Homo sapiens: one gene and its partner. The protein of the gene in region 2 interacts with the protein of the main gene of each other region in a pairwise test. Each region holds a gene or a part of one and is shown on either strand. Other genes may lie near its edges. The genes, in order: MLH3 and GALNT12.

What was found.
Region 1: the proteins of GALNT12 (region 2) and MLH3 interact in a two-hybrid assay, tested with the Homo sapiens proteins (one large-scale study listed by BioGRID and IntAct).

What each region holds. Positions count from the first base shown.
Region 1 is NC_000014.9:75,027,463-75,031,288, forward strand, and holds part of MLH3 (DNA mismatch repair protein Mlh3), read right to left. Parts: intron 3,254-3,826; coding exon of another isoform or gene 3,241-3,253; coding exon 3,081-3,240; exon of another isoform or gene 3,080-3,080; intron 1-3,079. UniProt on the Homo sapiens protein: Probably involved in the repair of mismatches in DNA.
Region 2 is NC_000009.12:98,845,534-98,848,315, reverse strand, and holds part of GALNT12 (polypeptide N-acetylgalactosaminyltransferase 12), read right to left. Parts: intron 2,340-2,782; coding exon 2,193-2,339; intron 1-2,192. UniProt on the Homo sapiens protein: Catalyzes the initial reaction in O-linked oligosaccharide biosynthesis, the transfer of an N-acetyl-D-galactosamine residue to a serine or threonine residue on the protein receptor.

The DNA of each region.
Region 1 (3,826 bases), on a different chromosome or scaffold from region 2:
TTGGCCAGGCTGGTCTCAAAACTCCTGACCTCAGGTGATCTGCCCGCCTTGGCCTCCCAAAGTGCTGGGATTACAGGCATGAGCCACCATGCCTGGCCCACGGACTCTTACTAAAATAACTTCTATTTATTTTTATATTTTTGTATTTTTTGTCTCAAGATCTGTTTGTGGATAAAAGATCTTGTAAGAGATTTACTTCAGTAAAAAAAAAAAAAAAAAAAAAAAAAAAAAACCCAAAAGAACACAGAATAAGTAGGATGCAAGAGGCAATGGTGAACAAAGACTCTGGTGAACACTTTTTTTAATCTAAATAAAGATTGACTATAAAATAAATGACCACCAGGGAATTAAAAACAAGGTGGAATTAAAGTACTAGACAGCAACATGGAAGATGGGAGGAGGGTGATGGGAGATGAACAGTTTGTAAGATTTTGGTACAGTTAGGAAGAGGATAGAGAAGTGAATTACTTTTAAACTTTGATAAGTATGCATGCTAAAAGTTAAGGCTAATCTCTAAAAGGATATAAATGGAATATATAACTTCTAAACGAGTAGAGCAAAAAAAAAAAGAGAAATACAGAAAACTATAATAGAAAACAGGAAAGGAGAGGAAAAAGACAATAAAGACAAAATAAATGATATTTGCTATAAAAAAAGAAACATATAAGTAATCAAAATAAAAAGTAATAGTTCTCTCTAATACCTCCAATGCCACAGCCCAGCAGTAGCTTTCCAAACCTTTACCAAAACATATATGTAAAGTAATCATATTTGGAATGCAATCTAAAATGGACCTTACTCTCCTGCTTAAAAGTTTTCACTGGCTGCCTATAGGATAAAATGCAAACTACTTAGTAGAATATGCTAAATTATTTTATGATTTGACCTTGACAACCCATCTAGCCAACTCCCATCCAGTCAAAGATCCAAGTATAACTTCTGATTTCCCCCCAATTTTTTTTTTTTTTTTTTTGAGACGGAGTCTTACTGTGTCACTCAGGCTGGAGTGCAGTGCAGTGATCTTGGATCACTGCAACCTCCACCTTCCGGGTTCAAGCAATTCTCATGCCTCAGCCTCCCAAGTAGCTGGGATTACAGGCACATACCATCATGCCTGGCTAATTTTTTAATTTTTAGTAGAGACGGGGTCTCATCATGTTGGCCAGGCTGGTCTTGAACTCCAGACCTCAAATGATCCGCCCGCCTTGGCCTCCCAAAATGCTGGGATTACAGGCGTGAGCCACTGCACCTGGCCTGATTTCCCCAAATCTTAACTACCAATAGCCTAACGTTGATCAGAAGCATTACCAATAATATAAACAGTTGATTAACACATATTTTGTGTGTTGTATATATTACACACTGTATTCTTACAATTAAGTAAGCTAGAGAAAAGAAAATGTTGGCCAGGCGTAGTGGCTCATGCCTGTAATCCCAGCACTTTGGGAGGCCAAGGCAGGTGGATCATTTGAGGTCAGGAGTTCAATACCAGCTTGGCCAACATGGTGAGACCCCATCTCTACTAAAAATACAAAAATTAGCCGGGGCATGGTGGTGTGCGCCTGTAATCCCAGCTACTTGGGAGGCTGAGGTAGGAGAATCGCTTTAACCCGGGAGGTGGAGGTTGCAGTGAGCTGAGATTGTGCCATTGCACTCCAGCCTGGGCATCGCAAAAAAAAAAAAAAAAGAAAGAAAGAAAGAAAGAAAGAAAAAGAAAATGTTAAGAAAATCATAAGAAACAGAAAATATATTTATTATTCATTAAGTGGAAATGAATCATCATAAAGGTCTTCACCCTCATCATTTTCACATTGAATAGGCTAAGGAGGAGGAAGAAGAGGAAAGGTTGGTCTTGCTGTCTCAGGAATGGCAGAGGTGAAAGAAAATCTGCATTTAAGTGTACCTGCGCAGTTCAGACCCAAGTTATCCAAGGATCAACTGTAGATCTTAATTTGAGCCATATCTATTGATAGTTCCCTAAACATAGGATGTATCTCAAGTCTCTGATATGTATTCCTCTGTCTAGAATGCCCTTCTCCCCTCTTCTGTACTCAGCACTTTCCCACTATTCTTTTTTTCTTTTTTTTTTTGAGACAGAGTTTCACTCTTGTTGCCCAGGCTGGAGTACAATGGTGCAATCTTGGCTCAATGCAACCTCCGCCTCCCAGGTTCAAGCCATTCTCCTGCCTCAGCCTCCTGAGTAGCTGGGATTATAGGCATGCACCACCACGCCCGGCTAATTTTCTATTTTTAGTAGAGATGGGGTTTTTCCATGCTTGTCAGGCTGGTCTCGAACTCCCGACCTCAGGTGAACCACCCACCACGGCCTCCCAAAGTGCTGGCATTACAGGTGTGAGCCACCTTGCCCAGCCTAGTTTCCCACTATTCTGTAAGACTTTTCTGGCTGTGTGCAGTGGCTCATGCCTGTAGTGCCGGGGGTTTGGGAAGCCAATGCAAGGGGATTGCTTGAGGCCAGAAGTTCAGGACCAGCCTGGGCAACATAGTGAGGCCCCCATCTCTACAAAAAAAAAAAAGGAAAAAATTAGCCAGGCATGGTGGTGCGTGTCTGTAGTCCGAGTTACTTGGGAGGCTGAGGCAGGAAGATTGCTTGTGCCCAGGAGATCAAGGCTACAGTGAGCTATGATTGCACCACTGCACTCCAGCTTGGGCAACAGAGTGAGACCTGGTCTCTCAAAAGTAAAAACTTTTCTTAAGAAAACAGCTTTTCTGTGACATTTTCATTGACTTCACCTCCCCAGGCACACAAGTCATTCTGTGTTTCCATAACACTTCTGAAAAACTATCTTGGTGCATTCTAGACTCTTAGTTTTCATTACCTTTATCACTGGGAAGAAAGCAAAACACATACCTCTACTAGCCAAAGTTCACTGACTATAATTCTTTAAATGCCCTTCTTCCTTATTTTGAGCTAACTCATCTCTGAATTTCTAGCTCCTGGCACACCGCAGGTAAATACCATGAATACTTGTTGAAGAAAAGATGAATTCAGAGAATCTACAGACAAAATATGAGGTTACCATCACTCAGCAATTTCCTTAACATCTGCAGCTGTGTCTTACCTCCACAATACTCTTGGTCACAGTAGATCTTCCTCTCCGAAGTTCATTGGCTTCTCTTTCCACAAAACATAGTGGTACTTTTCCCACAAGGACCAGAGAATCACTAGTGTCTGGAAATACAAATTCAAGGCCCAGATCTTCCAGATTTTTGTGGTAACACCTAAAGAGATAACCTCAAATGTTAAAAAAAAAAAGAGTGCTACTTCATTTGCACTTCACTACTGGTTCCAAATACTACTTAATAGTTTTTCAAAAGCTGCCACAGGGCTTAACAACCGTATTGTTTTTCTCACACTTATGTGTGGGTGTTTGGGATTTTTTATTATCAAATTTCCTTTTTGAATTACAGTAACCTTTATTGTTTTTCTCTTTTCCATTGGGAATCAATCTGTGTCTAAGTCTTGTTTCTAAGTGTGTTTTCTTCATTGAGGAACTGCTAACTTCTGGCTGCTGGCACTTAAGGGAGTCTGGCATGAAGAAAAGGTCTGAGAGTGATTTGAATCAGCATTAAAGCAGGGAGGTAATTAACAGCCCAAGGAATTGAGAAGTCCTGACTAACGGGATGTAAGTAAATAGATCTGCCTCTAATATAAATTATGTCATAGGGAAAAAAAGATTTACTGGCAGTATCATATTCCCAAACCTGAAACATATTGGGAGAAATTTCTTTTTCATTTTCAATAATTTGTGCTGCCTAGAAGAGGAAAAATATCCTATCTTGTGACTCACTATATGATTCGCCCCTT
Region 2 (2,782 bases):
TCTGTTATAAGCTGTATGCAACGAACTTAATCATGGCTGAGCAGCAAACAGGCAGAGTGAATAACAACATCAGTGAAAAACCTTTGTGATGTGCTGTTCACTAAATGGAACTTTTTTCATTCAAAAAAATCCAAACTCATGTTTTGTAGAATCCAAGAAATGACATTTCAGAGGTTTTTAGGCCTACATAAGAAAATACAAGGCTGGGCACAGTAGCTCACGCCTGTAATCGCAGCACTTTGAGAGGCTGAGGCAGGTGGATCACTTGAGGCCAAAGAGCTCAAGACCAGCCTGGCCAACATGGCAAAACTCCATCTCTACTAAAAATACAAAAAATTAGCTGGGCGTGGTGGCGGGCGCCTGTAGTCCCAGCTACTCAGGAGACTGAGACAGGAGAATCGCTTGAACCCAGGAGGCAGAGGTTGCAGTGAGCTGAGATTGCACCCCTGCACTCCAGCCTTGGTGGAGCAAGGCTCCGTCTCAAAAAAAAAAAAAAAAAAAAAAGATCCAGCCCTAAGAACTAAGCTTTCTATTATGGTCTAGTGAATATAAGTGGGGACATTTCCTTCAGAATTCACATATGTTTCTGTTCAATATATATTTGTTTTATATATATATATTTAGGGCATGACTGATGAAATATAATAAATCAAGCTGTATCCTTTTCACATATGAATCAAAGTATTAAGCGTCCTGAAGAAAGGTAAAAAATCCAATTCAGTATCCTTCTTCCCAGCCTCCTGAACAAACTTCCTTTTCCTTAAATGGTCACTGAAATTTAAGATAAAATTTTTGATATGTCAAACTGATTTTATTGTTTCTAGTGTCCACTACCATTCCTTGAGGGCTTACAATGGCTTCTGGTTGGGAGAAAGATGGGAAGAGGAGGACATTCAAGAAGATCAGAGACGTCTGGGGTGTGCAGAAGTATTTTTCCTTCTTATTTTCCTGTATTCAATAGGTAACACCATGGTGTGTGGCTTTTCTGGGCAGCCTGCAAATGTCATTGCTAGTGACAACATTTTTCTGCAGGAAAACATATTCCAGCTTTTAATCATCTTTAGAATAAACCCATTTATAAGCAGTATATTGGGAGTGAAAGCTGCCCAGGGAGATAAAAAACAATGAATTTTTTTCTTTCAAATGATTTTCTTTGGATTTATTCCCTCACATGCTTTTTAGTGAGTCAAAGGATATGATCGATTTACAAGTCCTGATGCAAGCTGACTGCAAGTGTGGTGGGGCCAGCACCCTCAGGTCTGAGGTAACCCTCAGTTTCAAATCAACTGTGACTATCCAGGGAGACTACTCTATCAGAGGTGTTTTCTTGGTTATAATACCACAAGCAACAACTAATCTCTATCGAGCTTTATAGTTTCCAAAGAATATTTCTGGCTATGCATCTAATCCTCAGTAAAGTAAGTCTGCTATTATTGCACCTTTTTTTTTTTTTTTTTTTGAGACGGAGTCTCGCTCTGTCTCCCAGGCTACAGTGCAGTGGCATGATTTCGGCTGACTGCAACCTCCGCCTTCCGGTTCAAGTGATTCTCCTGCTTCAGCCTCCCAAGTAGATGGGACTACAGGGGCATGCCACCACACCTGGCTATTTTTTTTTTTAAGTAGAGATGGGGTTTTGCCATATTGGCCAGGCTGGTCTCGAACTCCTGGCTTCGGATGATCCACCTGCCTTGGCCTCCCAAAGTGCTGGGATTACAGGCGTCAGCCACTGTGCCTGGCCTATTGTACCTATTTTAAAGCTGGGAAAAACAAGGCTTAGAGAGGTGGGGTGGCTTATATCTGGATCTAACACTTTGGCTAACATCCTTACACTTGGGCTATTTGGCTTACTCATTTAAAGCCCTTTCATCTCTGAATGCATTTGTAAGAGCTGTTTCCATGTCGGTGCCTGCAGCTCATGGGGGTGCAAGGGAAATGGAAAAGACTAAAAGGGACTGGACAATGAGGAAGGAAGGCAGTGCTAATGACACCGTGTGCCAGGGGACTCCAATCTCCTGCCATCACCGCCCCCCAGGCTCACTGGGACTGAGGTTCCAGGTCTTCCAGAGCTCCTGTCCATGCATGGCCACATCCCTGATCCTCACCAGGACTATGCCAGAGAGAACGTCTGACTCTCACACTCTCCCTTATAGCCCAGGGACTGTCAGCAGGAAGGAAGGAGAGAGTTCACCTACCTCCTGCAAGATGAACTTCTGATTCTCTGGGGCAGTTTCTTCGCAGAGATGCATGATAAGGGTATCCATTCCTGCTTCCACAGCAATGCAGCCCTCAGGCTGGTGGGTGTTATAGCGTATTTCTTTCTGGGACGTGTACTCGAAAAACTAAAAATGGGGCAGCCAACATGTAACACAACATTTTCCACTGATGTGGGAAGAGGAAAGATCGCTGGACAAGAACCTGGGATCACGAGAGCATGGGTGGGGTCATGCACCTGCGTCACCACCAACACGAGCCTGTGTGATGGGTTCCTCCGCATCCCACAGCCCTCAGTGAACCGCTACTGCAGTGCTTCATGAGCGTGGAGGAAATGGCCCTTCCCATGCCTGCCCAGCTTGCTAGACAGGGAGACAGGGCTGGTGCATGTCACCTCCTGCCTGCAGTGCTGAATGCTGTGTTGGTGTGGGATGGGAGGAAGGGAAATGGACCCATCGCAGCACTAGCTCTTGGGGGCTCTCTGTGACCTTGACTAGCTACTTCCTCTCCTTTTCCTCAGTCTCTCCTCCCAAACCCCCAATATGACAGTTCCTAGAAGATGTAAAGTGCT